4 linked regions of the Homo sapiens genome follow. The protein of the gene in region 1 interacts with the protein of each later gene in a biochemical or structural test. Each region holds a gene or a part of one and is shown on either strand. Other genes may lie near its edges.

Region 1 (8,361 bases):
AAAATACAAAAGTTAACCAGGGTTGGTGGCACATGACTATAATTCCAGCTACTTGGGAGGCTGAAGCACGAAAATTACTTGAACCTGGGAGGCGGAGACTGCAGTGAGCCGAGACCATGCCACTGCACTCCAGCCTGGGCAACAGAGTGAGAATCTCTCTCAAAAAAAAAAAAAAAAAGAAAAGAAAAGGAAAAAAAAAAGATAAAGTAGTAGATAATTATGTCTGAGAAGTGGTGAATATGAAAATACAAGAGGAATCGCTTGCTTTTACCACTCTCATATGATACACTAAGGCTTTGTGACATAGGATTACATTTTCTTCTTTATGGGTCCCATCAACAGAGTTCTGTTGTTAGCAATGTTTACATGATCATACTGACAATTAGTAATAATTACTCTAAAGCAGTGATCAATATAATGCGTTGTATTTTCCTATAGCATCTGATAAATATCTGAGCCAACAAATACTACACTGACTCAGAACACTGTAACAGATTTAAATGTCTCTTACAGTTGTTTTAAAGACTGGTACTTTTATATTACAGCCTAAAATGAATTCTGAAATGTAAAGCAGCCACTCCATTCTAGAATTACAAGATTAAAATGGTTTCAAAGGTTTCCTAAAAATTTGTAATTTCTAACACTTGCATTTGTTTTAAAATACTGACACTATCAAGTGGTGACAGAAAAATGACATCCTTATCTCTACTGCTTACGGGTGTGTAAACTGAGGCACACTGCTGAAAGAAATAATATGCAACATACCATAGTTTAATATGTATAAACTCACTGCCTCAGCAGGCCCTTCTCTAGGAATCCATCATGAAGAAATGCTTGTACAAGTGCACAAGGATCAAATATATAATATATGGTTAAAATACAACAATGTTCATTAAAAAACCTTTTCATAATCAACTGAAGACACCTTTAATGTTCATCAGTTGGGTCTTAAGAATAAACTACAGTACCTCCACATATGGAAAACTCTGCATCTGTTAAAAAGAATGAAGTAGATTTACATCAGCTGAAATGGAAGGATGGCTAAGACTATATGGCACACACCTGTAATCCCAGCACTTTGGGAGGATCAGCTGAGCCTAGGAGTTTGAGACCAGCCTAGGCAACACAGTGAGACCCCATCTCCGCAAAAAATAAAAACATTAGCTAGGTGTGGCAGTGCATGCCTGTAGTCCCAGCTACTCAGGAGGCTGAGGTGGGAGGATTGCTTGAGCCCATGAGGTCGAGGTTGCAGTGAGCTAAGATCACACTACTATATTCCAGCCTGGGCAACTGAGTGAGACACTGTCTTTAAAAAAAACAAAAAACAAAAAACAAAAAACAAACAAAAAAAAACACCAAAAAAATATATATATATCAAGAATTATGTATAGGAGAAGTAGGACACAATTTTTGTAAAAAGAACAAAATCCCCCCCAACTATACATTTATGTAACTAAAAACAAGCATATGCACATTTTTAGAATTCCATTATCTTGAATACAAATAGGGAAATATCTTTTGGAAATTAAAATAATTTCAAAACAGTGGGGCAAAGAACCACTCACCTGTTGAATTTAACAGCAAGGCCCAGGTCAGCAATGCAGCAACTCCCATTTTTCTTGATGAGGATGTTTTTGCTCTTTAGGTCTCGATGAGCAATTGCGGGCTTTCCTTGGGTGCCATAAATTTCTGTGTGCAGGTGGCACAGACCACAGGCAGCTGAATAAGCCAATTTAAGCAGGGCTCTGGTGTCCAGTGTAGCACATTTCAGGAAGTCATAGAGAGATCCATTTTCATGGTAATCAGTAATCAAATAGAGCTGAGTCCAGGAACCTGTACCTTTAATGTCTGCCGCTATGAAACCTGTCCAGTTGATGAGTTTAAAAGGTTAGTTATCATCAGAGATAGGCTAGGGAGAAGTAATGCTCATTCTGGATACTGAGAAAAACTTAGGTATCATGTGCAGATAGTGAAACTTTAATTCGCCTGACACCAAGTCGTGAATGTGTTACTAAAAATTATATTTCTACATTTACACATATATCTGTACTTCTACAATAAATTTATAATAATCTTAATAATCATGAAAGTGAATAGGATTAAGAAAAAGATCATATATGCTGGGTGTGGTGGCTCACACCTGTATCACTTTGGGAGGCCAAGGCAGGAGGATCACTTGAGGTCAGGAGCTCGAGACCAGCCTGGCCAACAGGGCGAAACCCCGTCTCTACTAAAAATACAAAAATTAGTTGGGCATGGTGGCAAGTGCCTGTGGTCCCGGCTACTCTGGAGGCTGAGGCAAGAGAATCACTTGAACCTGGCGGCAGAGGTTGCAGTGAGCCAAGATGGCGCCACTGCACTCCAGCCTGAGCGACAGAATGAGACTCCGTCTCAAAAAAAAAAAAAAGAAAAGAAAAGGAAAGAAAAGAAAAAGATGACATATTATACAAATAACCTGGAGAATATTATCAACCTACATGATTCTCTAGTAGAAAAGGCTCTCAATTTCAAAGCAAAAAGTGGACACTTTTATAAAATTAAGAATGTTCAACTAAGAGTTAGCTCCTAATTAAGCCAACTCCCATTTGCCCATCAGTGACTCATCACAGCTGCCTTTTCAGTCTGGCTCGTTGACTGCCAGGCCCACAGTCCTGCTCTTTTCCTTTCTCTCCTACCCTCTTCCCTCCAGAAAAAGGTCAGTGAGTGCTATGTACTGAGCTGAACAGTGCTCCCCGACAAAATTCATGTCTAAAATCCATGTCATCTATAAACGTGACCTTATTTGGAAAGAGGGTCTTTGCAGATGTAATCAAGTTAAGATGACTCATACAGGATTAGCGTGGGCCCGAATTCAATGGCTGGTGATGTTGTAAGGTGGAAATGTGGACCCAGGCACCCAGGGAGAAGGCCACCTGATGACAGAAATGGAGACTAGAGTGTTGTCTATACTAAGCCAAGGAACACCAAAAATTCCTGGCCACCAACCAGTAGCCAGAGGAGGCAAGGAAGGCTCCTCCTCTAGAGTATTCAGAGACACAACAGCTCTGCCAACACCTTGGTTTTAAACTTCTAGCCTCGAAAACTGAGTGAATACGTTTTGGAGGTTGAAGCCACCCAGTTTGTGGTAATTGATACAGCAGCCCTAGGAAACTAATACAATTGCCTGCTTGGCAACATGCTATGGGCTCTCCAAATTAAAGGGAGGAAAACAAGAGGTGAAGGGAAAAGAAAACTCAGGATAGCCAGATCGGCTTATGTACCTGACTGACCAGCTCACACCTAAATTACTTTGCTATTGTGTAAATGTGGAGATGGGGGGAAACACACATTAAACACAGAACGTACAATGAAACTGCATGTTGGGCTGTTGAGCTTATGAAAGGGAAAAGGCACATATGTTAATGTTACCCTAAATCACTGCTTAAGTTATCTATAAAAGACTGGGTTTTCATTACTATGGGAGTAAGTCCAATAAACTAGTATTATTTTCCATTTGAAACTCACTGCTGTTTCTTCAGCTGGTTAGTAAAGAAAGATCTTGGTTGGCATTCCGGACTATGTTTTATTCAAACCGTGTATTCTACTAGGTTTCCTTTAGCCAAATGTATATAGTTGAACTCACACATTTTCAAAGCACATATGGAGGCTTCCACCTGTACCTCACTAGCCTTGTCAAAAATGAAATTGACTGAATCAGTGTGTACCCACCAAGTATGTTTTCATGGCGCATTAGCACAGTTTGGTAGATTTCTGTTTCTCGAAACCAGCTGGCTTCTTCAGTGGTAAAGAATACTTTCACCGCCACTTTTTCGCCACGCCATTTGCCCATCCATACTTCTCCATATCGGCCTTTACCAACTTGCCGGACCATCTGAATCTGTTTGGCAATAGTTCGCTGAACCTTTATAGAAAAAAGTAAAAGGTTTGAGCTCTTGATGAAAGAAACCCATTAAGACTGGCAAAGGGGTAGTCCATCTCATCAAAAAGCATGGTGTACCCAACCAACTCCAGTTAAAAACTTATAATGTACTTTTTTTTTTTTGAGATGGAGTCTCGCTCTGTCACCCAGGATGGAGTGCAGTGGCGCGATCTCGGCTCACTGCAACCTTCACCTTTTAGATTCAAGTGATTCTCCTGCCTCAGCCTCCCAAGTAGCTGGGATTACAGACACCCGCCACCATGCCCAGCTAATTTTTTTGTATTTTTAGTAGAGATGGGGTTTAGCCACGTTGACCAGGCTGGTCTTGAACTCCTGACCTCAGGTGATCCACCCCACCCCCGGCCTCCCATAATGCTGGGATTACAGGCGTGAGCCACCATGCCCGGCCATAATGTACTTTAAAGTATGAAACAATGTACAATGTATTCTGAAATCATAAACAGGTTATTCAAGTGGCTGGCTGTTTGCAAAAATGGTCATAATAATTACCCTCCCAGTGCACACAGTCGTGGGTAGTCTTGGTCCACAGACTCAGGGCTTAGGCCACATGACTTGCTTTGGATAAAAGAACAACAGCGAACGTGATGCAAGCAAAGACCTGACAAATGTTTGTGGACTGGGGCTTGCCCCCTTCCTGCTGCTTTGGGAACCCTGTGACCAAAAAATAATGGCAGCATGAACTGTCGGCCAAGGGTGTGAACTACACCACCTAGCTCTAGCTAAGCAAGTCCAACAAATGAACTGCCCCACAGACTCACAGAATGAGAAATAATGTTTGTTGCTTCACATCACTAAGTTTTGGGGTGGTTTATTATGCAGCAAAGTCCAAATAACAGTTAAAGATCTTAAAAATCCCATCTATAAGACCCTGCCTGATCTGGCCTGGTCCCATTATTTGCTTTGACCACCCACCCACAAACCTCGTTTGACTTATCTCAACTTTTAGAATTCACTCAAGCTTATTCCTGTCGCTGGGTTTTTTTGAATATCCAGTTCCCTTTACTTAGAGTGCTATTTTCTCACTTAAACACCTTCATAGCACACAAAACCTCTCAGTTGCTGCGCTTAACACAATCATAACTTTATTCTTATTTACATATATATTTGCTTGAATTCCATCCCCTGCTCACAGAATATAAGTATTTATTTGGGACAATATCAGAAGTACTTTAATATTTGTTAAATAAAAGATGTACATGGATTGTTATCTTTCATTTTCAGAAGCATTAGTGATCATTCTAAATTAAAAAGAACATTATGCTCCAAGTTGGAAATGCTTCTAAAATGGACTAGATTTAGTGCAAAGCTAAAGTGACTTTATGTATCATTTATTATAGAATCCTTTTGTAAATTTTGTTCTGTTTTTTTGAGACAGAGTCTCGCTCCGTTGCTCAGGCTGGAGTGCGGCGGCCAATCTCAGCTCACTGCAACTTCTGCCTCCCCAGTTAAAACAATTTCCTGCCTCAGCCTCCCGAGCAGCTGGGATTACAGGCATCTGCCACCACGTCCAGCTAATTTTTGTATTTTTAGTAGAGACAGGGTTTCACCATGTTGGCCAGACTGGTCTCGAACACCTGACCTCAAGTGATCTGCCTGCCTCAGCCTGTAAGTTTTTAAGTCAAGATTATTGAGGTATAATTTATATAAAATGTACCCTTTTTGAGAAAAGTTCAACAAGCCTTGGACAAATCTATATCATGTAATCACCAATACCACAATTAAGATACAGAATATTTTAATAACGTAAAAAAATTCTCACTTTTTGGCCAGGCGTGGTGGCTCACGCCTGTAATCCCAACACTTTGGGAGGCCGAGGCGGGTGGATCACCTGAGGTCAGGAGTTCAAGACCAGCCTGGCCAACATGGTGAAACCCTGTCTCTACTTAAAAAAAAATACAAAAATTAGCTGGGCATGGTGGTGCATGCCTTAATCCCAGCTACTTGGGAGGCTGAGGCAGGAGAATCACTTTTGTGTAGCCTTTTGTGTCTGGCTTCTTTCATGTAGCATAAAGTACTTTTGAAATTCACCCACTGTTGCTGCTACATGTGTTAGAAGTTGTTCCTTTTTACTGATGAGTAATATTCCACTGTATGAATGTACCAGCATTTGTTTATTCATTTAGCAATTCATGAGCTTTGGGGTTGTTTCCAGTTTATGTCTATTATAAATAAAACTGCTATAAACATTCACATTCAGGCCTCTGGTGTGGACAAGTTTTCATATCTCTTGGGTAAATAATTAGCAGAAGGATTGCTTCATTGTACGGAAAGTATGCCCTTAACTTTCCAGGCAATTGTCAAACTATTTTTCAAAATAGCCATACCATTTTGCATTCCAACCAGCAATGTATGAGATTTCTAGTTGATCTACATCTTTGGCACCACTTAATATTATCAGTCTTAGCTATACTAGTGGATGTGCAGTAGTATCTTACTGTGTTTAATTTGTATATCCCTGCTGATGCTGAGCATCTTTTCATGTGCTTGTTTGCCATTCTTATATCTTCTTTGGGGAAGTGTCTGTTCAAATCTTTTGTCCATTTTTTAAAAAAATTGGGTTATCTTATTATTGAGTTGCAAAAGGTCTTTATATATTTTGCACAAAAACCCTGTATCAGATCTGTTTTGCCAATCTGTGACTTGTCTTCTCATTTTCTTGTCTTCTAAATAGCAGAAGTTTTAAATTTTGATAAAGCCTGATTTATCATTAAAAAAATGATTTGTGTTTTTTATGTACTGAAGAAGTCTGCCCAAGGTCAGAATAATTTTTTCAGACATTTTCTTTTAGAGGTTTTATACTTCAACTTTTACATTTAGGTCTATGCTACATTTCAAGTTAATTTGGTATAGAGTGAGGAGGTAAGGACTGAGATTAACTTCTTGGTAAATGGATTCCTGATATTTCCTGCACCATCTGTTAAATGGACTGCCTTTTTCCAATTGAATTACTTGGGCATCTTTTTGTTTTTTTTTTTTTAATCAATTAACCATATTAAGTGCATGTTCCTTTCTAAACTCCATAATCTGTTCCATTCATCAATACATCTATCCTTATGCCAGTACCAAATTGAGATCATTATTGAGTTTTACGGTAAGTCCAGAAATCAGGTAGTGATTCCTCTTTGTTCTTCTACTTCAAAATTGTTTTGGCTCTTCTAGTCCTTTGCATTTCCATATAAATGTTAGAATATACATCAATTGCTATAAAAGTTTGCTCTGATTTTCATTTGGATTCGAATGAAATTACACACCAATTTGAGGAAAACTGAAATCTTAATACTGAGTCCTCAGATTTATAAACATCTCCACTTATTTAGGGCTTTATTAATTTCTTTCAGCAATGTTTTATAATTTTCAGTGTGCAGGTCTTGCATAAATTGTTAGGCTTATTCTAAATATTTCATGGTTTTTGATGCTATTTTAAATACTGTTTTTATAATTACCTAATTGTTTGTTGCTAGAGCCTATAAATTCAATGGTATTTGTACAATGACTCTGTATTCTGCAACCTGATAAAGTCATTTACTGGCTGCAGTAGTTTTATTGTACCATTCTTGGGATTTTCTACGTAAACAATCATGTTGTCTGCCTATGAAGGCAGTTTTACTTTTACCTTTCCAATTCAATTAGAGTTATTTAATAAGATGAATTTCAAAATTAGAGATCAGGGTGGGTGCGGTGGTTCACACCTGTAATCCCAGCACTTTAGGAGCCAAGGTGGAAGGATCAGTTGAGGCCAGGAGTTTGAGACCAGCCTGGCCAACATGGAGAAACCTCATCCCTCAAAAAAAAAAAAAAAAAAAAATTAGCCTGGTGTGGTGGTGCATCTGGTAATTCCAGCTACTTCGGAGGCTGAGACGGGAATTGCTTGAACTTGGGAAGCAGGGGTTGCAGTGAGCCGAAGACTGGGCCACTGCACTCCAGCCTGGGTGACAGAGCAAGACTATCTCGATACGATTAAAATAAAATAAAGTAAAATAAAATAAAATAAGAAGAGATCAGTTTCTTTCAACTAATACAATTAAAAACTTAAACCTATCTGGATATCTAGTGTTCATAATACAGGTCCTCTCAAATAAGAGTTCCTTCAACCCAAAACTGAGTATTTCCATATATAAATGAACCTGCTGGGATTATTTTTTTTTCCCTGATACCAAGAATCCATCCAAATTTGTTGGAATTTATTTGTAATTCCCTTTAAAATTATTTTTTATTGAACTATGTGTTTTGGTAGTAGTATATTGAGAGAAGCATCCTCTCTAAGAATATCTGTTGAAACTTCTTTTTTATTTCAGAATCTGAAATAGTTACAGTTCCCTCAATCAATCAGTTTAAACTTACAGATGCAAGGAATCTTATACCTGATTCCTCTTTAAGTTGGCTGGTAAAATGCTTAGAGCAAAACTTGTGAGCTAACTCTT
Region 2 (6,048 bases), about 58 Mb from region 1:
CTGAGCTTGCATAATGTCGTACATGAAATGAGAATGTACAAGGAGCAAGAAGTCCTTTCATCTCTAAACTACAATCTACTATAATGTGATCAAGAGCCAGAGTGGGGTTGGGCAGAGTGGCTCACACCTTAATCCCAGCACTTTAGGAGGCTGAGGCAGGAGGATCACTTGAGGTCAGGAGTTTGGGACCAGCCTGGCCAACATGGTGAAAACCCTGTCTCTACTAAAAATACAGAAATTAGCCAGGCATGGTGGTGGGTGGCTGTAATCCCAGCTGCTTCAGAGGCTGAGGCAGGAGAATCGCTTGAACCCGCGGCGGGGCAGGGGGCAGGGTGGTGTGCACCACGTGTGGTGTGTGGCGAGTGGGGTGGAGGTTGTAGTGATACATATGGCGCCACCGGACTCCAGCCCGGGCGACAGAGTGAGACTCAAAGAGCCAGAGGTGGAGGTGAGGGTGGAAATTTCACCAACAGACAACTTTGATCAATTCCCTTGACAGGTTTGAAGGGTTGGGTTCAACAATTCTTTGGCTTCCTCAAAAACTGACATACATAAAGCTTAACATCTTTTATAAAATATAAGGCATGCATGCAAGAGCTGCTCATCTTAAAAGGGACAGTACGAATGCTATCATTTATTAATATGTGTTTATTCCACAGCTTAGTTTTTTGGGGCAGGTGGTCTATTAATATTAATAAAAGAAAACCCCATACTCGAATATGCAGGCTGTAATTTTTTTTTTTTGAGATGGAGTCTCCCTCTGTTGCCCAGGCTGGAGTGCAGTGGCACAATCTCAGCTTACAACCTCTGCCTCCTGGGTTCAAGCAATTCTCCTGCCTCAGCCTCCCGAGTAGCTGGGACTACAGATGCACGCCACCACGCCCAGCTAATTTTTGCATTTTTAGTAGAGACAGGGTTTCACTATGTTGGCCAGGCTGGTCTTGAACTCCTTACCTTGTGATCCACCTGCCTCGGCCTCCCAAAGTGCTAGGATTACAGGTGTGAGCCACCGCGCCCGGCCTACGGGTTAACTTTTAAGCAAAAATTTCACATATACAAAGGAATTCAGAAGATACCCTCCATGGCATAATATTCTCACATTTAAAATAAGAAAGATCCACTGGGGGCACGGGAAGTACACAAATAAAGCATACGTTTAAATTCAGGATGGGCAATGTTATCAGGACAAAAAGTCTTATAAGAGGAAACATTGTTTCCTAGCTGTATTAGTTACTGGCTAAAGCCAATGTTCTATTTGGTTACATAAAGGATCATTTGGGAGGATGAAACCTAGTAGCAGTTATTTAAATCAATTGGTGTATCGTGTTCACTACAGAAAAGCTTTCTAAGTATTAAAAAAAAAAAAAGCATCACACTGTTGAAGCACAAGGTTTAAAATTAAGTGTGTTGTACAGTAAGGTTTGGCTAATTGGGGAGCCAAAATACTTAATTTGGCTTAGGACAAAATAAACTGGCCAATTAATCAACAGTAAAAGGAGACAGTGACTGACTTGAACAAAAAAACAGTTGTTTAGTTGGTTTTTTTTTCTTTTTTGGGTGGAGGTATACACATTGGAAAAGGTATTCCGGAACACCTGGATCAAAATGACCTTTGCTAGGTCAACTCCAGAAATTGATCAATCATATCTGACCTGGTACACATAAATTCCAGATCTCCTTCTTAGATGAAAGCTAAAACCAGAGTTATCCTATAGCCAGAATGTGGGTAAGACACTAAAAGATGGTCAGTATACATTTAGAAACTCCACACTGTAAGAAAATTACACAGGCACATGGAAGAATAAGCAAGATCTTGGTCTTGTTTAAAAAAGAAAAGAGAAAAAAAAAAACCAAGCCACATCCTAGAGTTGAGAACAAATTATTAACAGCAAATGGCCATTTGTATAATTAACATGTACTGTCTCACGTTTCCCAGTTAAATTTATGAAAGACACTATTAAATTTCAGACAAAATATATATATTTCTTTTAAATCTTTACAATAAATCAAGATGTAGAAGCTTACATAGGGCACATTTTTGTTTATTTAGGTACTCAATTCCAGCTCCCTTGGATGCAAATAACCCTGGTGACAGTGTGTACAAAGTCTTCTCTTTGCTTTTTATAATTTTAAAAGCAAATAACACATTTAACTGTATTTAAGTCTGTGCAAATAATCCTTCAGAAGAAATATCCAAGATTCTGTTTGCAGAGGTCATTTTGTCTCTCAAAGATGATTAAATGAGTTTGTCTTCAGATAAAGTGCTCCTGTCCAGCAGAACTCAAAAGGCCTTCAAGCTGTTCAGTAAGTGTAGTTCAGATAAGACTCCGTCATACGAATTCCAGCTTCCCGTGCCCACTGTACATGCCCCAGTGAACAAGCGAGAGGATCTTATCGTTGCTGAGGTCTGCTTGTCTCATTTTATCACAGGTCAGACAGCAGTTCTCGTGCCCACTGACCGGCACCATGCATTCCAAGTCTAACTTTGCAACCTGCCCCTTTTTGGAATGGTGTCCGTGAAAGCTGTAGTGCAAACGGGAGAGCATCTGTTGCCGCTGATCCTGCAGCCTCTTATTTTCACTTCGAAGCATCCTCAGGGCCAACATAATAAGCAACACTAAAATCAGCCCTCCAGCAATGGGCACGGCAATGACCGCTGCCCGGAACCACAACTCTTTGGAAGAAGTCAGCTCCTGCACCTTGGTGATAAGGTTTCTGCTACCATCATGCTGATACCTGTTTCCTTGTCCTAAAGGAGTACAAAGAAAATGATCAAACTCCATGCTAACTCCTCCTAGGGATATTCATAATCATCAATTCATTTTAACCAAGAATTCCATTAAAAAGAAGCTTACAATTAAATCAACGATATTTAGAAAACATTGCAAAACTATCTGAAGAAGCTTACAAACGCATTTGTTTACAGACTGTCATTACTGAGATGTAATGGCCTTTTAATGTCTTCAAAATGTTGAAAAAACAGGCAAAACCTATTATGTAGACAGACATCTAATGCTCAGACATAAAAGCCACTCAATCAAGATGCATCTTTGCATCCAGCCAGGCTTCTCCCTCTGGTGTCTCTAATTACATTAACAACAAAATCAATAGCAGACATACAAAGTCGTGGCTGTCACAAGTCTATAGATCAGGCAGGCATTCTGGTTAGAAACGGCTTCCACCTACCTGAGGCCTCACCCCTGGGAGGAGAGAGAACATCGTGCAGCCCTCTGTAATTGCACATGTCTTCATGACAGCATTCCAATGTGGGTATGGTGGTGCCAGAGTGGTTTCGGGCCTGTTTGGCTTGGCAGATGTCTGTCGTGCTTGCAAGAGAGTCCAGGCAGCCATGGGTGAGTGGGGAATTTGAGTTCTGAGGATCAAGAAGTCTAGAGAAGCAGGCGCTGAGCTCAGATTTACACATATAACCAGTGGCTACACAGTGGGCAGCATCACAGTAGCATCGAATTTCACCTGAAAACAATGAGAAACCACCTCAAACTCTGCTCCAGAGACCAGATAAAGCAACTATTTAGGCAACTGCTAAATCCCAAATTCAAAGGCATGAACTTTTAGATCATCCAAGCTGAGGGCTCCAGTCTACAGAGCCTGGAGAAGCCCTTCCTGCAGCCAGTGCGTAAGTTTCAATCCAGTTAAACGTCATTTTGGCAATGTAGTAATCCCAATAGCAGGTTTCTGAGGAGTTTAGAGTCATTTTAAAAAAACTTTTGCTTTTTGAAGGAAATAGTAATGAGTATAATTTCTCCTACCATAAGGTATAACACATTATTTATTCATTTTAATCCTACATGACCATACAACATAAAAATGTTAGGCTTTTTGATTTTGTCAGTATAAATATTTGATCGGAACTACTGAATTGTTTACTATCCCACAGGACTGCACCAAGAGTTAAGAGCTTTAGCTAACACCTTATAAAGTTATTAACTAGAAACACAACAATCTAGAAACTGCCCAGGTCAGGAGGTTTTAAAACTATGAAACTAGGCAGCTATTTGCAACCTCTCTAGAAAAGGCAAACTTTTTGCCTATAAAGATCTTTTCATGCAGAGGAGCTTTTAGTCAGTATATTGTAAAACAGGAACTAGGCAGTTTACAATTAGTGGTTTGCTTGCCAAAGTCAATTTCTTTCAGCCCAAATGGAAAGTCATAAAAGGTGGGGGGAGTATAAAACTGCAAGGCTAACTTCTCCTCCTCCTCCTCACAAGTTTTACATGTAATTCGACATGTGATCTAAAAGGGGAAACACTGAAACTGAAAATCCTCTGCTGGTTGAATGAAAAATCCTTAAGGAAACCTCAAATTTTCTACAGGAAGTGATTAAAAGTTTCCTTTATAAAAACTTATTTTGTGAGTTGCATGGCTCCGTTCACATTTTGTCGCAGGGCAAGATTGGAGGCTTTAATATCAGTTTCTCGTTGAAATAATCTGGGTCTTCAAGTTCTCACTAATACAATATCCACCTAGTGGACCCTGGTCGCTGTCACATGCCACAGCGAGTAAACTAAACTAATGCACACGCCTCTTCCAGTTTCCCGTCTGAAGATCCGAAACCTCCACTCTGAAATTAAACACCGGGATCTGCTGTTTTACAAACCTCTTCCCACCCTTACCTTTATTCTTCCCCCTCTCTCTGAACGCCCCAGTAAGGTGTCTCATTTAATTATCTGTCCAAATTCCAGACCACGGTATTGTATGCTCAGTTTTCACCGGACGCTGCTAATGCTTCGGTTCTAAGGAAAACCAGCCCGCTAAACACAGATCTTTGGCAACCCTTAACAGTCCAAAGCTAGGGGTCTTGCTCCTAAATCTGCACTGGTTGGGCCCAAGTTCCTTCTCTGCTTCAAGTAAGAACCTTGCTTTGCAGAACCACTTCTCTGCTCTTTCTCCTCCTCCCTCCAAGCTCACTTTATTTTCCACATAAAGCTCACCAGTCTTCTGGGGTGATGACTACATATCCCTAGTTTGACAAATTCCATATATAGATTTAAAGTATAAATAAAACAGATTAAAAGCCCATTTTGACCCTATTAGCTTCAGACCTTGTACAGAAAAGGAAGACTGAATACAAGTAAAATGCTGCTTAAATGTTTATGAGAGCCTATTTTCAATGACCTAAAAACAGCCTAATAAAATTTTGACAGGTAACTGGGAAAGTTCTAACTACCTTTTTTTTTTAATTGGAGCCACATTTTAAGCAAGGAGAATGGACTTTTGTACCACTGTATTAAAACTATATTTCTGTCGTTCATAAAGTTTCTTCCTGTGGCATGCAAAAGGCCAGAAAGGGGACTGGTATTTTGAAACTGTGGAACAATGCCCTTCTGTTTCTGTCCCCTTCTCGTTACTGTATGTAGTGATTAAACAAAAATGTCTGCTTTAGTCAAGATGGCTACAGGAGAGACTGCTGGCTTCTTTTAAAGCTTTTGAAGTCCGCAGCCGTCAGAAATCTCTGATCCCCTAATTATATCATTATCAGGCACATAGTTTCGGTATCTGTGACTTCATGTCAGCCTCAGTCCCTCCCTGTTCTGCCCGCCTTTGATAGGGCCAGGAGGCTCCCCTCTGCAAGCCACAAGGGCTGTTATTTAGGGTTAATTACACCCTTCCTTCCAAAATAAATAAATACTGTAGCACATCATCCTCGCTGGGCTAGCTTATGCTTTAACCTCATGCCTGCTACATAGCAATTAAAGAGAAGTAGGGGGCTGCAAAGACTAAACTGCTTCCTACTTAAAAAAATTATCTGTTCACAGAACAGTAGGTAGATTTCACAGCAGGGAGGTGAGGAGAACCTTGAAATTCGGAGACAGTTCGGGTTATTTCTTTCTAAAAGGTGAAAGCCTGCAGAGGAAAGAAGAAACTGACCCGCTGCCTTTTTTTTTTTTTTGGTCCTGTTTGTAAAATATGAGGTGAGTGGCAGTGAGACGCTGACAGAGCCTACTCCTCCCGGCTGCTGAAAAGCAACACAACACACACTTCTGCACACCTCGGACACCTAAACTCTCAGGGAGACCCACACACTCG
Region 3 (7,142 bases), on another chromosome or scaffold:
TACAGCATTATTTTCCTTAGGAACAAGATCTGATCAAAGGTCAGGTACTGCATTTAGCTATCCCATTTGAGAATAACTTTAATTAGCCAGACTTTATTTTTGCTATACTTGAGGAATCATATCCCATGTAGTATATAAACATTTTAATTTAAATTAGGCTTCTGACAGATCTTTTATTATTAATTTATATTTTGTAATTCCATTCTATTAATTACACTATATGCATGTGAATTAGACTTTTTTGGGCCATAGTTGAAATTCTAACAATAGTCTAAAGATATTAATCTACTTTTAATTTTAAAAGAGATTTCTATTTTTTTGGTACTAATAAGTGTAATGCTAGGTGACTGGAAAAGTGGAAAACTCCAAGGAGGAAAACGAGATACCGTCCAGTGTTTAAGAGGAATGATTGATGCTGACAAATTTGGAATAAAAATTTTAAATAAATAATCTGGATGTTTTCTAAGGCAAGCTGTTGATTTTATCACTTCCCATTGCCAAGACACACATCGGTGCCTGTTAAATTTGACGTTTTTACTCTGATCGTCAGTGGCAGCTTTAAAGCATCTGTAGCATCCCAGGATCAAGCAACAAATCAACTCCACGAAGGGCTGTGAAACCATATCTGCCCGTTTCCTTTCCCGAGAGCCTCTCTCTAGTGGCAAGCCAGTAGCTAATCTACACCGGAGAAGTTACGACCCTTGTCTTTTGCAGTTAATGGCAGCCTGTTTGTTTTCTGCACCTCTCTTTTCCTTTTGGGGAACACAGGGCTGAAAGGTAACAAGATCCAACAGGGCTCTAATCATTATATAAACTGTCTACTGAAGAGGTCCCTCTACCTCCACCAAATTTCTCATTAGGTGGCCACAGTTGAGAGCCAACAGTCTCTGGCAACAATTTTGAATAACTATTCATATTAAAGAGGCTTTTTACAAAAGGGATAAACTTTTAAGAAGAACTTGGGTCATGGTGTTTGAAAGAAATGATATGTTTATTATTGTTTAGCGATGCTGGTAATATTGACTATACTTTGCTCTTTCCCTCCCACAGTCCTGATACTTCTTTACATCTTGAATTTCTGATATTTTAAATATAATTAGGCTTTGAATATGTAAGTACATAATTGGAATTGGAATTGAATCAGAAACTTGTGTTGATGCTCCAGTTATATATTCCTATGCATTATATTACAGGGACTAGTGAATGATGGCCCAAATGCCAATCTGAGGCTTGCATCTTGTACTTCTTTGATATTTTTAATATATTTAGGCTTTGAGTATGTAGCACACAATGAATTGGAAACTTATGTTTATGATCTAGTTATGTATTCCTATGTATTACAGGGACCATTGACTGATGTCCTAAACACCATTCTGAAGCTCTAATAGTGTCTAGTGTAAACTGTGAAATATTGATACACTTCCTCTTACAATGAGTGACATTATTTGATCCCTAACCATGGACATCATTGTGGAAATTCACCTCCACCCCATCCTCACCTCATCAAGTCCCTAGCATTCCAACACTATAATGTCTACTTCTGCAGCTGATATTCTGATTTCTAGAATGTGTTTGTCAAATATTATATCTGTTGTCAGCTTTCCTTGTGATGTGTGTTGTTTTTTAAAAGACTGAAACTGCACTGGATTTATGGGAAAGTAAGATGAAGCGTGTCCCTGGCTATGGTGATGAGCTTGCAACAAGGACAGCTAAAACGATGGTGTTTTTAAAGAGGAAATATTAGCCTTGGCATATTGCAGGAAAGAACCCACATCTACAGTCTGTTCCTTCTGTGGTTAGTGACAGGTATATGCCACTCCTACAGTGGGGTTGCTGGACCTCAGATCCCTTTATCTTTCAAACTCCAGTGAAGTGATCTGTACTGCCCTGGCCATGTAATTTCAGAGATAGCTACATTCCTCAGCAAAGGTATCATACACATTTTTACTCAAAAGTCCAAATAACTTCTTTGCATCATCAGGAATTGAAACCATTGGCTTTTTAAAATTTTTTTATTTTTTCACTCATCATTTATTTACAAATACACATTATAACTTTTATATACATTGCACATTTACATGGTAGAAAAGTACAAAACTATATATTTAAATGAATTTATATTTTAACTTGCCATGTTTGAAAATATAAAATTGCATCAGAAAAAAGTATTATGAAAAGCAAGAAACTTGAACTGATAAAGCTTTGATATAACTTTTAGTGATATACTGGTTGAAAAAGAACTAATTTAAAAGGTACAGCTGAGTAGCTTAAAGGAAACACCTAACAAAAGGTTGAATGTGTAGCCTTCAACATCCTTTAGTCTCCTGACACCCACATCATTTCTTTGTATCTGTAACATCTTAAAAGTACATTACTAGAATTCTAATCATCTCCTCTCTCACAAATGTCTTCATCATAACAAAAGAACTGAAGTAGGAGTTTCCTCAAAGATGCTTATCTTCTGTACCTTGTATTTGAGTCAGAGTTATAATGCCTTTTGGTCAGTCAAGGTTCCTTGTAAACAAAACCCGAGGGATCATGTATGTACAGATCAGGCAGCAGAGAATCCAATAAATAAACATGACAGAAACTGACATGCAAGTTTGTTGAAAGTGGAAAAGAGTCTAACAGTGAAATGAAGGGAGACAGATGAGTGAGTGAATAGTAAGGAATGGACTTAAATGGTTTACAAGGAAAAAAAGCTTTTACTTTACAAGCAAGAGACCTCACAATAAATAACAACTGCTCTTCCTTTCACGAATAAATTTCTTCAAAAACAAGGTATACAGTCAACCAGACATTTTATGTATAAATTATAAAACATGACACAGTATAAATAAATGTCTACAAGTCTCAACTATGGGCCTCATCCAGTAGACCTCACAATGAATGCCTCTCCGTGTCCAATGAGTAACAAGGTGGCCTGGGAGAGAGCTTTAGGACAAAGGTCCTTTAATGTATAGTTTTCCCCCCAAATAAATAAGCATACACTTATTTACAGTATGGACAATATATTTTTCTTTTTTTCTTTTTCTTTTTTTTTTTTTTTTTTTTTGCACAAAGGCTATGTCAACACTGAACACTTATAGAGAGTTTACCACTCTAGAATAGAAGATATAGGAAAGCTGTAGTCCTGGTCTTCATCTTCCTCCTCTTCCTCGGTGTCTTCCGAAATGGCTAGATGGGGGAATACAGGGGAGCTGTTGTTTAAATACGGACAACAACAGCGCAGAAGCAGCTCAGTGTATGTTTTCAAAGCCCTCTGATACAGCCATATTACAGCGTTGCATTTTTATGTGACTTGCAGTGAGATGCTTTTTTTGTTTTTGGCATCTGCTGTTATGCAATAAGTTAAAAAAATTTTTTTAAAGCATAATCTATGAAGTCAAAAACTGCAGAAAGTTCTGAAGAATCAATGGCTCAGGTTTTACGGGCAGATTCCTGAAATTAGATAAAAAGCGCTCTTGTGTTCTAGGTATAACTGCTTTGGGTCCTTAATTCAGAGTTAGTAGAGGCAACTGCAAAAAGCAGCAGCCCATGTGTGATAATATGAAGCTGTCGTTGGAAAAAAAAAAAAAAAACTTTTGAAGCAGTTAGTTTAGACTCAAATGTTAATAAAGCAAACAGCAAAGCACACTACCAAAACACAAGAAATAGGGGAAAACAACTGGAAATAGATTTCTAGAGGCAACCCCATTGATGATCACCAGATAAGTCCTAAAAGCCAAGAAACATCGCAGAGAATTTTCTGTGGATTATTGAATTGCTGGTGATACTTAGCAGCTACCTAATTTGAACAGAAATGGATTTATGGGAGATCTGCGTGCTTTGTAAGTGTCCATTCCCTAGGGATTGCCTGGGAAAGCCTTAAATGGCAGCAAGGTTAAAAATCGCACTTACAGTTGCAAGATCCGGAGTGCTTTACTTCCAGTAGCACACCTGAGGAGCAGGCAGCTTCCTTCATGGCACACTCGCTGGCATAAGTGGCATTGTCACTGGCACAGACAGGCTCATCCGACTTACTGTCAGGGCACAGCTCATCACAGAGGGAACACCGGCCTCTCCCAACCTTGAAATCCCATAAACATTTTTTCCCACCAGTGCACTGGATATCTTCACAGGACTTTGCTTCTAGGATATAATACATCTGTGATGAGTAAACTGATTTCCCCATATCCCCCTTTTCTCCCTTTCTCTAGTCCTCTATCAATAAATATAAACATAATTTATTTTATATAAACATAATAGTAATAGCCTATTACTAATGGGGGTAATGGAGATATTATGCAAAAATGCTGGATAATAAAACTGAAACTCAAATGCACACACACATACACACGCACAAAACCCCTGCAGTTTCTTACATACTACATTAGTGCATTAAAAGGGTATTTTTTTAAGAACAGGATTTTACAATATTCTCAAGTTAAATATGTATCTTATTATTTCCCACAAGTGGGATCTTTTACAAAAGAAAGAATTCCATTAATTACTAGAATCTGACAACAGATTTCTGGAACTGCTAAGTAATTATTTTTCGCTTCCAGCAAGTCTGGCACTTAAAAAAATGTGTAAAATTGAGTAAGTTCTAAGTTTTCTAAGACGGAATACTGTTCCTTGCTTCCTGCTGGCATTTGAATATATGTGTCAATGCCTCCAGAAGACAATGGTTTCCATGAGGAATACTGTGGTCACAACACTTTCCCCAAATTGCAGCGTATTTCTCCCTATGGTGTTTGGGGACGCCTTGGGCTTTACTTATTAGTTAACCCCACAGTTTAATAATAGAACTAGCCTGTTTTCTCTTTTTCCTTCCTCAATCCAGAATACCTACTGATACACTTTCCCTCATAGGCTAATCCAATAGATCTGCCCAGCAGGCAGGTAGCCTTTCTCAGGTGGCAGGCACTGGAGTAGGTGACTCCATCATTCCCACAGAGATATTGCTCAGAGGAAGCAGGCTCTGGGCAAATCCGATTACAGGTCACACAGTAGGCATTATTGGTCTGGTCCACCACACATGTGGAGCTGCCTGGACAGAAAACATCCCGACAAGTCTCTGGAACAAAGAAGGAAACACACATGAATAGGTACCTTCTAGTCCTTAGGGAGTGAGCACTTGAAGTTACCAAGGAAATCATGACACTGAAGCATCCAGCTTTCAAAAGGCACTTAGGGAGCCCTGTAGTTTTCAAGAGAGAATCTATGACTAGGTTGGTCCCCTCAGTGTTCTTAATGAATCTCTAGAGGTTAGAAAAGGACTCCTTTATTTGGTTTCAGTATTACTATTATCAGGCTCTTACTGCGGACTACACCATCCCCCAAGGGTCTTCTAGAGGGTCTACTTTAGGTACAAAGCTGGAGGAGGGGACAGATCCAGTCTTGCTCAACAGGGTAGGACCTACTTTTACATCTGCCTTGGTACTGGACTTCCAGTTCTGGCTGCTCTTTACATCTTGCCTTTAGGAGTGCACATTCATTGCGGTAGGTTTTCCCATCCAGCCCGCAGACTGGACCCTTCCAGGTGATGTTGGAACAATCCGGGGCGCAGACGCAGCGGGGTTTGTTCTTCTTGTTCATTCGGCATTTTTTCCCAGGTCCACAGTCCACGTTCTCACACGTTTCTGTGAGTTAGAAACAGGCATGGATTAAAACCAGAGCCAGGCAGTCTGCAGGTCAGCCAGGAGGGCTTCGGGTGCCTTGCGCAATCATGCAGCCCTGAGTTTGCGCTGGAGGGGCCCCAGGCTCTCTCCTGGAATATTGGGAGTTGGTGAAAGAGTGTGGACCTTGGGCTGTGCCCCACACCCAGATCTCTCTCATTAAGGAGCACAGGTTGGTGGGTTTCACCACCACACTTGGCTAAGAAGTCTGGCGTGTATTCCCTACAGCCTGTAACAGGCAGAATTAGAGTCTGCACGGCTTACCAGGGCAAGGGACAGGAAGGGGAAGCCCAGGAACAAAGCTCTCCTACTCCCAAACCCCAGTCAGGTAGTGGGGAAGCTAAGGGTAAGACGCCCTCTACTGAGGGCCTGCAAGTTGGGAAGAAGGAGTCCTACCTTTACAGGGGATGCAGTTGGGGGCGCCCCCGTTGAAAATCATCCACTTGAAGAGTGTGTTGTCATTCACGTCCTCCTCGGTCCACGAGGTGCTCAGCCGGCCGGTGCTGCAGCACTCCTCCTTGCTCAGTTCGGTCTTGTACAGGACCTGGCAGCGGCCGTTCTTCGCTTGACGGAGCCAGCAGTTCCCAGCTGTGAAGAGACAAGGGTGGGGAGGTGGGTGAGTGAGCAGTGAGCGGTGGCAGGGCAGGGAGAGCGAGGTGGCTAGCGAAGGAGACCCGGCGGGGATGGGGAGGGGGTGAGCGTGGAGGAGGGGAAGTGAGAGAGACGCGGGAGAAAAGTAGGAAATAAATCGAAAGGGGTGGAGGGGTGGAAAAAGAAGGCAGTGGAGGGGGAAGCCCTGATCACAGAGATGGGAGGTGGGCGAGAGGGAGGGAGGGAGAGAGGGAGAAGACAGGGCGCCCCAGCCATATCAATGTCAGTTACCAGTGACCCAGACACAACACGTGCAGCTTGCATTGACTTTTACTAGACTGTTTACTTTTATTCGTCCCATTTCATAACCTGCAGAGACTCGAAGAGCAGATTAAAGAACCTGACAAAAACAGGATGCGACGGATGTTTTTACATGCTGGTTTCATGTAGGCGGGTACAGGAATTATTTGTGACAGGGGTTAAGAAAGTAAGAGAACGAGAGAGAGGAGAGAGGAGAGATGGAGGGGAGAGAGAGGGAGAAGGAAAGAGAAAGAAAGAAAGAAAAGAAAGAAGAGAAAGAAAGAAAAGAAAGAGAAAGAAAGAAAAAAAGGAAGAAAGAAAGAGAGAGAGGAAGAAAGAAAAGAAAGAGAGAGAGAGAGAAACAGATCAAGCAAAAGGCACTTCTGAAAAATGAAAGCAAAAAAGCAACCCGGCCCAGCCCGGAGCTACCCCGCGCGGCCTCCAGGCGCAGCCAGCCCGACGGGCCCGTTTTGCAATCCGCCAGACCGGAGCACGCCCGCGGCCACCGCGATCTTTCGAAATCTCCGAGGGCTGCTTTCCTCCGCGCCCACGTCCGGGCACCAGGCAGAGCCTCTCCTCTAAAGGCGGGCA
Region 4 (10,136 bases), on another chromosome or scaffold:
TTAATAATAACTAAATCCAACTAGTGAACCAAGCTTCAGCGAGCAAGGGGTGGGAGGTTTAGATGCCAAAATACCTTCAAAAAAGTTTAAATTATACTAAGCAGCCAGTTAAGAAGGAAGCAGCAACATATGACCTGATTTAGAACCATCTCCAAGATGTATGAGGTGGAAAGAAGCAAGGTGCAGATGAGTGGGCTGCATGTGTGCTTGTATATCATCGTGTCCTCCTGGAGGAAGACACCAGGAACTGGAGAGAGATTTTACTGGAGGGGTAGAGAGGCGGGGGCATAGCTGGGGCTTACGGAGTGGGAGGTGGGGTCTGATTTTTCGTCGTCTGCACTTCTGTATTTGTGATTTTTTTAAAACAATGTGTATTTATTAACTATACCAAAAACTAAAGGAAAATTCCAAATACATACATATAAATAATGAACGCAGAGCTCTGTCGCCCTCCTGAAGCCTGGGGTTAGCCAGGGCCCTTTCTCTGGTGGGGGATTTATAGCATCTTCCCTTCTGTTGGGTACCCCGGACTCCCACTGAATGTGCAGGTCCCAGTGGCTGCCTTCAGAGCCTGGCTGGAATCATTAAAAAGGTATTTGTAATCTCTGGCTTCTGCAGAAGGCCCTGCAAACCAAGAGCAAAAAAGCCCCCAGTGCTTATGGGCCGGCAGTGTGGGCTAGGCCCCGGGGCTCCCTGTCCCCAAGAGAAAGACCAGGTTGCTCGGAGGGTGCCTCTGGGAACTTTGGTGCGGGCTATTTGCTCCCCCCATGGCGGCAGGAGCAAGCTGGGACTTGTTTGGGAAGGCCACAGCTGGGTGGTTTTCCTCCTCTGGCTGTACATACACCTTTCAATCCATTTCTTTCATCTTGAAAGGACAAAGACCGGCTTGTCTGAGCCTCTTAATCAGTCAGGCTGGCTTTGGGCTTTGTGGGACCCTGACTTTCTCAGGTCTAGCTTTCTGGGACATCACTCCAAATTAGATGGCAGAGTGGCTTTTAACAGAGCGCACTGACCTTGTTTTCTTTCTCTCTCTGTCCCTAAACTCGAGGTCATTAGTTAGGTGAAGACCTGGGCTGCAGTTTGGCGAGACACTTCCTGTAGATGCTTCTAATGTTGGCCTTTAATTTCTGCTAAGCAGCAGCACACAAATAAATGGCCTGTCCCTTCTATCCTGTTGTAGCTTGGAATTTCTCCATAGGAGGGACTTGGGGGTGGCAGTAGGGTTGGAGAGGGTTGGGGGGAGGTGTAGGAGACTTGTCTGGCCACTGAGTTTGCTGAGAAAGTACTGCTATAGTGTTTTTCCTTGGATTGCAAATCATGTTGATCTGTAGTATTCGAAGTTTTCTAAAGGCAAGTTTATTCTCACAATTTACATAAGAGTGAGAAAATATCACTTGCACATATCAAACTATTACTTCTTATTATGGTGGGAGTTTGGCGGGGGGGGCATGGGTGAGGATCTTGGCAGCCTCTGCTGCCCCTTCGCCCTGCACTGCAGAGCTCTGCTGTCTTGCAGGCAGGCGGCCTGCGTGCGCGGGAGGGGGGACCCTTGCCTGAATTCTGAAGGCTTTTGCAGACCTGGTGCATTTATTCTTCCTTCTGTCTGCCGCCAAACTGGTTTTTGTTCCTATAAGTCGTTCTTGGAATTCAAGTTTTTTGCCAGGCTGAGCGGGATCTAAACTAGAGGGGAAACTAGAGGGGAATTTACGACAAAACCAGGTGGTGGGAATGAGGACTAAAGGCCGCACCTTATGACAAAGCCCAGCCTGTACCATAAAGCCCCAGGCAATGTGAACTGAGCTGCCTGAGTGAGACTCCCATCTTCCCAGCCTGGGCCCCTTAAGTTCAATGGCAAGATTTGTAAACTGGTTTGGATTAACAACCCCGACTCCTCTTTGTAGACTTAATTTTGGAATTCAAAACAGCTACCCTCTCTTAAATAATCCCCAGGCAATGGCGACTCCGCACACTGCATCTAGCCATAGCCCGTTACCATTCTTTCTCTGGGAAGATCCAGCAGCTCTGTTAGGAATCTTGTAAAGTAGCCGGCTGGCACTAGGGGAGTGGAAGTCATCATGTTTATCTCTGGTCCAGGTAATGAAGGCATGAAATTTGTGTAATCTTTGAAGGAAAAGAAGAGAAAGTTGGAAACCTATCATTATTGGAGTCAGCCTATAAAAGTGGCTTTTGTTAATGTAGCTGAAGAGTAGGGAGAAGGCCGTGCAGTTTGATTTTTGCTTTATGCCATCTGGCTGTCCTTTTTGTTGACAAGTGTTTGGCATTAAGACCTCTCCCACTGCCCGTCAAGAGCAGGCCCTACCACTGTAGAGTATTAGAAAAAGATTCTGTTACAGTTTAAAAATTTCCTTCAGGGAGTGCTTCGCAAAGGGGAGCGTGGACTGCAGGCATTTGCAGCTGTAACCTGGCTTGTGTTAAAATTTGGAAGGGGCTGCTCCACATTCCAGCACTCGGAGCGCCGGCCCTCACTGGTGAGCAGCCAAAGGTTAATATAGATGTCACACAGCTCCCCCCTTCTTTCTTTCTGCAGAGCGCCTTTGCTATAGGAGTGCACCAACAGCTGTGTTTTTCGTAACCCTTTCAAAATCACTTCTTTTAAACCTCATTTTCCTGCTTATATAAATCAAAGATTTTCCTCCACTTTTCCCAAGCATGTATGTGACCCAGCTTTGAACTTTTTTCATTTTCTATGTATTTTCCTTCTGGAATCAAGGCAGGGTAAGGCTGAGCCCTGGATGCCAACTTGGGTGGCTGTTTTTGGTTTTGGTTCCAGGGTTGTCATTCGGTTGTGGAGCGGTCCCCATGGAAGGGGTAACAGAGATGGCCCACTTGCAAATCAGTTTCAGGGCAGCAAGGGGGATGATTGTCTGAATGCACAGACAGACGAAACCGCTTTTGAGATGCAGCCCTCTCAAGCTACGGTTTGGGGCTTTACCATGGCGTAGTAGGCTCTCAAGCCTTTGCCGAGATAAACACAGCTGGTGCGCGATCCCCTCACCACCGGAATGCCTGCGATGTGAGTGAATATCACGTGTCCGCTGAACTCAGAGACAACTGGTGACTTCATTCCAGGGAGAGTCCCATCTAAGTTGATTGATCACTCCTATCACTTTAATATCTCTCCCTCATTTGGTAAGGTCATATTTGGCCCATTGCAAGAATCAGCGTGCCCTAAGTCTCCCCCGTCTCCACCCTTCCCCATCTGCCCATCCGTGTAACAGCCTGAATATTTTGAATGGGGAGCCCTTTGCACCATGCTTCTGGCCACATTAATTCTTTCACGCTCACTCTTCAGTCTTAGCGGGGGGGCTGTTGGCACACTGGTTTCTTGGCAAGCCACTGCAAGGCTTCGCCTTAATGCACTCTGGCACTGTCACCGGGGTTAGGGCACAGGCAGGGATGTGTGGGACCTGTCATGTTATTGTCAGAAGGAATGTGCGGATTAGCCTTTACAGCGTAGTGGTGGGAGAGCACTGCAGCTGTGTACACTTATTATAAAAGATTTAAGTCCCACTGGTAAAATCAATATATTGAATTGCACAACCCTCTGCTTTTAATTAGTTTAAATCAAATGCGCCGGTGCCATTTTGCCTTCTCTCGCCTTCATGGGGTGAGGAACTACCAATATTTACATAGAAACTGTTAATTTGTGGTGAAAATGATAACACATTTAGCTTTACACACTCAAATTGCTCCAACTTGATGGATCCCAGATCAACGTGGAGTTGAGCTGAGGAGATGACGTCACCAGGAGCGGGGAGGAGACACCCGTGATGTCTGTTGCTTGGACCCTGGATTCCAGATGCAGGTGGACATGTGTGTAGAGGCAGTGACTGGGGATGCTGGTCCTTCAAGAAGCGAGCTGGTTCTTTCTATTGCAGGTCAAAAACAATGAGATTTACCTACATCATCTAAAATCCTTTCTCGGAAGCATTCTTACAAAATTGCGAAGTGGGCACTTGCTCTTGGGTCATTTTGAGCCTGTTCTCACAGCATGCAAGGGTCATGTACTGGGCAGCTCAAGGCACGGTGCTTTATTTATTCCAGAGCTTCACATGCTTTTCTTTCCAATCCCTGAAACAGTTTATAGAGGAAGGGCGTTTGTTCACTGCAAATGATCCCATGTACGACCGCGGCTATTAGTGAGCCGTTTGGTATTAGCTGTGTGTTCAAGCTGGGATTGAATTCCGGGTTTTGCAGCAAATGGCATCTGACAAATAATAATTGACAAAAAATGTGACTTGGTATTTCTTAATATGGAACAGATAGTTCATTTAAGCTTCCCCGGCAAAAAAAAAATTGCTCAAACTCAAACTGAAATAGCAATGCCAGGGAATACTAGGACTGCTGCTGTGTATTTTTTTCCGCTCCAAAGTAGAGTGTTTATGATTTGGGGGGATATTAGAGTGCATGAAGTTTGACACTTACTTATGCGAAACTCAGGCAAGCATGTGCAATACCGCCTTTTCAACATTTGTGTCGGAAGGCATTGTGGGGAGCCGCGCAAAGCCTGTGCTGATCCGCGTGGAGTGGATTGAATTAATGACAACTCCGAGAGCACCAGCTTTAGGGTAATTGCTTTATTGTTTTGGAGCCAGGGTGCATATAATCCGGTTCCTGTGCAAACATGTTGAACGTGTGTTAATGCATTTCCAAACCAGAGCCTCTCACACAACCCTGCTTTTCATTAATTGATGTCGGTAGCATGGTACAGTATTTCAAAGGGCTGGCCAAGTATAAACTGTGTTTCCAATTTCCTTCCTTTCCTGTGTTTGGAATGCCAATGTTAATTTGTTCCCATGCAGGAGCGGGGGCTGCCAACCGCGGCTTTCTATAAAGGGCTTCACAGTGAAGGCTTCCAGCCCTCGCTGATGCTTGGGGCTGCCTGGCCAAGTCTCCTGACACTTTGCAGCTAATTCTGGGTGATATATGGGGTGGGGGATTGGGGGCTTCACTGCCGTGTAACGGAAGTTCTCGGTGACAGCAGTGGGTGTGACTTGGCAAGGGAGATTGGAACGGCATCCACAGTGATTCTCTTTAGACACAGCCTAAACCTATGTGTCTGTTTCCACTATGACAGCACATTAGCTGTGTGACCTTGGGCAAGTTACTTAACATCTCTGCATTTGTGTCCTCATTTTATAAAGGCTACAAGAGAATCTCTTCCTCAACAGATTCTAAAGAAATAGAAATCATATCACCCATGCGCAGAGGCTGTCACCTAGTAGGTGTAAAACAAATGGTAGCTCTTGTTTTTATTGTGTTGGCCAGATGAAGATTTACGTTGGTATATTAGTCCAAATTTCAGTTTTTAAGTACTTAATCTTAAAATACTGAGATTAAACTGCCCATGTTATTTTAAATGTCAAGAAAATGGTCCCCAGAGTGTGAATATGTGTGCGCCTCCCTCTTTCAGAGATCAATGGAATTTGAATGAATGCACCAAACTTATTTGAGGATGAATAGAGTCTAAGGCTGAATCTTTTCCCCAATTTTAGCATCTATGGTTATTTAATGATTTTACTACTTGGGAAACTGGAACTCAGTGAGAGGGTATACCGGAACTCTCTGTAGTGCCTTTGCAACTTTGAATTAAAAATTAATTTCAAAATAAAATGTTTCATTTAAAAAATTGCATTATTGAAGTATTTCTTCCCAATCCTTTCTGGAAGATGGTCAAAGTACAAATTGTCTTTTCCTTCAAGGGAGTGACAAGCCCAAAGCATTCATTAACAGAACTGCACAACTTCCCCACTTTTTATTGGAGCAGGTGCAAGGCTGCCCAAGGCTCCCGCAGCTGGGGTTAGGCTGCAACAACAAAGCCCTGTGTGGATTCAGCATGTTTAGAAGCCTCTAGAGACCAGAGGACGAAAGAGAATGGCTTCAGGGCCAGATACCGAGGGGTGGCGTTTCTCATTCAAGACTTTCCATAAATTCCCTTCAGCTCTTTATACTGTTTGAAAAATCCGACTCACCAAGTATTAGGTTTCCCTGCATCTCTGAGGTCACGTGTTCTATCACATCTTTATCTCCCTGGAGTAGCTTTCAAGTTTCAATCTTTTGTTGCCTGGCTTAATTAAAATTGGCCACGAATAAAAACTTGCACCGTTTCCAAAATCGAGGACTTGTGTGTTTCTAAGCATTGGGTTTAGGCCTGCCCTGTCTTGTGCTTCCAGCCTGTCTTCTGCTTTCATGTAGCTTGGACTACATGAAGAAAAAGAAAAAGCTAAGCTCTTAGCATGACAGTTGGCATATAATGGTCCAAGTGCTCATCCCCCTGGCAACTTACACACACAAAGGCAGGCAAGTTTTTTTTTTTTTTTTTTTTTGGTGGCTTGTGTTTTGGCCTTCAATAAAGGACACTTTTCCTGTTTTTTTTCAGACAGCCTTATTCTCCTGCCCATGCACAGCCTTGCAGAATTCTCATGGCATAGAAGGTGCTCAGATATTGGTTGTTTCGGTGCACATATGGCATGAAGACATTCTAAGCAGTCTCTTCTAAATGCTTTTGATCTCCAATTCCCACTACTACCTTTTCAGGTACATACCTTAAATAGTAATAAGTTGTATAACTACTGCAGGATAGCTAGGATAGCTTGTGCTTCATAAAACATAGACAAAAATAGAAATTTAAGTAGGAGACACTAAAGCTAAAAGCAATACAAAATTTTGGTGTTTGTTAATTAATACAAATTTTAACTAATGAATCATTTTAATTTTAATTGTTAACACAATTTTAATTAACAATATACATTTAATTAAAATTAAATTTTAATATAATTTAATTAAGTTTGCAGTCATGAAAATTTGCGGTGCAATGGACTGTTCTTTGGTGTTTTCAAAATCATGATTTAACAGTTTAGAATCACTGATCTAAAGGCCTGGTCCCAAATTTCGATGACCCTTCATCTGGTCAGTATAAATGAAGTTATTGTGTGTGAAGAAACTCACAATCTTGGTGCGTTAAAAATCCCAGAAGTTTGTTTTTCATTTGTATCACATTATAGCTCTATCGTGGGTTCAGGGTGGAGGCGTGGAGTTCTGCACATTGGTGGCAGCAGAGTCCCTGGGAGAGGCTGAGGTCCTCAGAATGTTACGAATAAGGTGCCAGAAGGAAAGATAATGTGAACTGTGCGTTGGCTTTTAATATTTCTACCTGGGAGTGACTTTCTAACTTCAAAAATTTCTATTTTTGTCTGTTTTATGAAGTACAAATGATCCTAACTAGTAGTTATACAACTTATTTCTTTTTTTCTTTTTTTTTTGAGATGGAGTTTCGCTTTTGTTGCCCAGGCTGGAGTGCAGTGGCGCGATCTTGGCTCACTGCAACCTCCGCCTTCTGGGTTCAAGTGATTCTCCTGCCTCAGCCTCCGAAGTTGCTAGGATTATAGGTGCCCACCACCACGCCCAGCTAATTTTTGTTATTTTTTTTTATTTTTTATTTTTAGTAGAAATGGGGTTTCGCCATGTTGGCCAGGCTGGCCTCAAACTCCTGACCTCAGGTTTTATCCACCCGCCTTGGCCTCCCAAAGTGCTGGGATAACAGGCGTAAGCCACCTTGCCCAGCCACAACTTATTTCTATTTAGGGTATGTACCCCAAAATTTACTCTTCCACCTGAAAGAGCTTCTGCTCACATTTCATGGGCCAAAGTGAGCCATGTGGCCAAACCTGACCCAAGGTTGGCAAGGAGATGACGATACCACTGCTTGCTCAGAAAGGCAAAGCACCAGAGAGCGTCCAGGAAATGGCACAGATGACACCACGCTATCATGATTGAAGTGTCTCTCACAAGATTCAAAGACAGAAATGTGGGAAGTAAGTTGTGGGGTGTGTTACTGAAACCAGAGCTTCATTTTTCAACCCCACCTGTCAATTATGCAGATATTTTTGTTGAAGCTAGTGAACTCCCATGATTGTCAGTTGGAATTTGCATAACAATTATAATTGTAATATATCTTTTCCTGACTCCCAGTGGGTTCCTCTTGCCTCCTCCCATCTTGCGCTTCATTTTGGAGACTGATGTTCTGGAGGCTTCCATCTCACTGAAGTACTCAATTGGTTCAACAACAATAACATCTCTTTCCATTCCCACTTGTAAAGTGACTTCCCTGTTTATGACTTGTCTTTCAGCAAAGGCAAGCTTCAGCTTTTGTCCGGTTCACTATCTAGAGAATTAAGAAGCATTACTCTGCTCCTGGCTAATGAGGTGACTGCTGGTGTTTCCCCGGAAGATACAGGTTATCACTTCGCCATGAAATCTTGTCCACAATGGAAGAGCTGCTTGCTTTCTCTCCTGGGCCTTGGAGACATTCCTTTTTCTTTCTTTCTTTTTTTTTTTTTTTTTTTTTTTTTGAGATGGAGTCTCTCGCTATCCCCCAGGCTGGAGTGTAGTGGCATGATCTCCACTCACTGCAACCTCCACCTCTGGGCTTCAAGCAATTCTCCTGCCTCAGCCTCCTGAGTAGCAGGGATTACAGGCTCCCACAACCACGCCCGGCTAATTTTTGTATTTTTAGTAGAGACGGTGTTTCACCATGTTGGCCAGGCTGGTCTTAAACTTCTGACCTCAAGTGATCCACCTGCCTCAGCCTCCCAAGGTGTTAAGATTACAGGCGTGAGCCACTGCAACTGGCCCCTTAGAGACATTTCTTAGTCCAGGCAGGATCTTGCATAGGCTGAATCTAGACATTAAATTCAGAGACCCCTTCATCATCTAAATGCATCACTGAAATGGATTGTAGACCTCAGAGGGCTAAGACCTTTCTGTGTAGCAGCAATGGATTCAGAGTAGCCATCTTTATGGGGCCCTCATGCAGTTCTCTCAGTATTCTGCAGGGTAAGCAGTGTCATTTCCATTTTAGAGAGGAGGATGCTGAAGGGGCCCAAACATGCACAGCTAGGAAGTGTGGGGCAGATGTGTCTGTCCAGCTCTTGCTGGGTGCAGAGCTGCCCATTCTTTCCTCCTGAACCTGTGGGGTATCGAATAGGTAGCGGGGAGCGTGGAGGAGATGATGTTGAGACCATTAAAACAGAAGCCGAGCCCATGGCCTTGACTCTGTGGTCCCGTGTTCTGATAAGTGACATAGAGATAAGCAGGCACACACCTTTCCCTTCTGTTATCCACCCTGCTTGTGATACCTCCCCTCTCCTCGGTCTTTATGGTTTAAAAATAATTGTCAGGGCATAGGGCCCTGAGTGCCTGTGGGGGGCACCTACATGTACCCCATAACCCTTCCATGGGGAAATTCCATAGCCAGCCAGAGATTGGTATTTTAATAGCAATTCCTCAAGATGCTGTATAAAAAAGACCACAGAAACAGTTTTTTTCCGTATGTCCCAGCATGCCTTTGTGTACGGTCTGTAGTATTGTAAACTCCCCAAAATCAAAATGTGCATGAACAGGGGATTCGAGAGAGAAGCAGGTGTAGCTCTGGGAGGGGATATGGAATAGTCGCCCCAGCGCAGGGACTTCTTTTTGTTTTTGTTTTTTGTTTTTTTTTTTTTACTGTATCAATGTAGACTGGAAACAATGTCAGAAGGAGAAAGCAAGTAGCAGAAGGATGTTTAGGATGTAACCATTTGTTAATTACACACATAGGCACCCCCGCCCCCAACCTCCCACACAAGGGGACCAACTCATAAATGTATTGTTTGTGGGTTCATACACATTGCAGTAATACCATGGACACATGGGCAGGAAGGACTCCCTACCTTCAGGGTGAGAGCTGCCCGTGGGGAGGAGGGAAAGGATAGTTTTGATGAGAGTTTCAAATAAATCTCACCTATTTCTGTCAAGTTTTCTGTCTTTTAATAAGAAGAAACCAAAAGAGGCTGGGCGCGGTGGCTCACGCCTGTAATCCCAGCACTTTGGGAGGCTGAGGTGGGTGGGTCATCTGAGGTCAGGAGTTCGAGACCAGCCTGGCCAACATGGTGAAACCCCGTTTCTACTAAAAATACAAAAATTAGTGGGGTGTGGTGGTACACACCTTTAGTCCCAGCTACTTGGGAGGCTGAGGCAAGAGAATCGCTTGAACCCGGGAGGCAGAGGTTGCAGTAAGCCGAGATCACATCACTGCACTCCAGCCTGGGTGACAGAGCAACTCTGTCTCAAAAAAA

Evidence for each region.
Region 2: the proteins of BMPR1A (region 1) and BAMBI form a complex in vitro, tested with the Homo sapiens proteins (one study listed by BioGRID).
Region 3: the proteins of BMPR1A (region 1) and FST are reported together in a solved structure, tested with the Homo sapiens proteins (one study listed by BioGRID).
Region 4: the proteins of BMPR1A (region 1) and BMP7 form a complex in vitro, tested with the Homo sapiens proteins (2 studies listed by BioGRID).

Annotation. Positions count from the first base shown.
Region 1 is NC_000010.11:86,912,674-86,921,034, reverse strand, and holds part of BMPR1A (bone morphogenetic protein receptor type-1A isoform 3 precursor), read right to left. Parts: intron 3,902-8,361; coding exon 3,709-3,901; intron 1,864-3,708; coding exon 1,566-1,863; intron 1-1,565. UniProt on the Homo sapiens protein: On ligand binding, forms a receptor complex consisting of two type II and two type I transmembrane serine/threonine kinases.
Region 2 is NC_000010.11:28,678,684-28,684,731, reverse strand, and holds the end of BAMBI (BMP and activin membrane-bound inhibitor homolog precursor), read right to left. Parts: intron 3,475-6,048; coding exon 3,187-3,474; intron 2,750-3,186; coding exon 2,331-2,749; 3' UTR 1,800-2,330; downstream 1-1,799. UniProt on the Homo sapiens protein: Negatively regulates TGF-beta signaling.
Region 3 is NC_000005.10:53,481,986-53,489,127, reverse strand, and holds the end of FST (follistatin isoform FST344 precursor), read right to left. Parts: intron 6,797-7,142; exon of another isoform or gene 6,613-6,796; coding exon of another isoform or gene 6,543-6,612; intron 6,249-6,542; coding exon 6,057-6,248; intron 5,625-6,056; coding exon 5,406-5,624; intron 5,060-5,405; coding exon 4,835-5,059; coding exon of another isoform or gene 4,796-4,834; intron 4,132-4,795; coding exon 3,901-4,131; intron 3,442-3,900; coding exon of another isoform or gene 3,440-3,441; exon of another isoform or gene 3,201-3,439; coding exon of another isoform or gene 3,178-3,200; coding exon 3,095-3,177; 3' UTR 1,994-3,094; downstream 1-1,993. UniProt on the Homo sapiens protein: Multifunctional regulatory protein whose primary function is to antagonize members of the transforming growth factor beta (TGF-beta) superfamily including activin, myostatin, GDF11 or bone morphogenetic proteins (BMPs).
Region 4 is NC_000020.11:57,254,036-57,264,171, reverse strand, and holds part of BMP7 (bone morphogenetic protein 7 preproprotein), read left to right. Parts: intron 1-10,136. UniProt on the Homo sapiens protein: Growth factor of the TGF-beta superfamily that plays important role in various biological processes, including embryogenesis, hematopoiesis, neurogenesis and skeletal morphogenesis.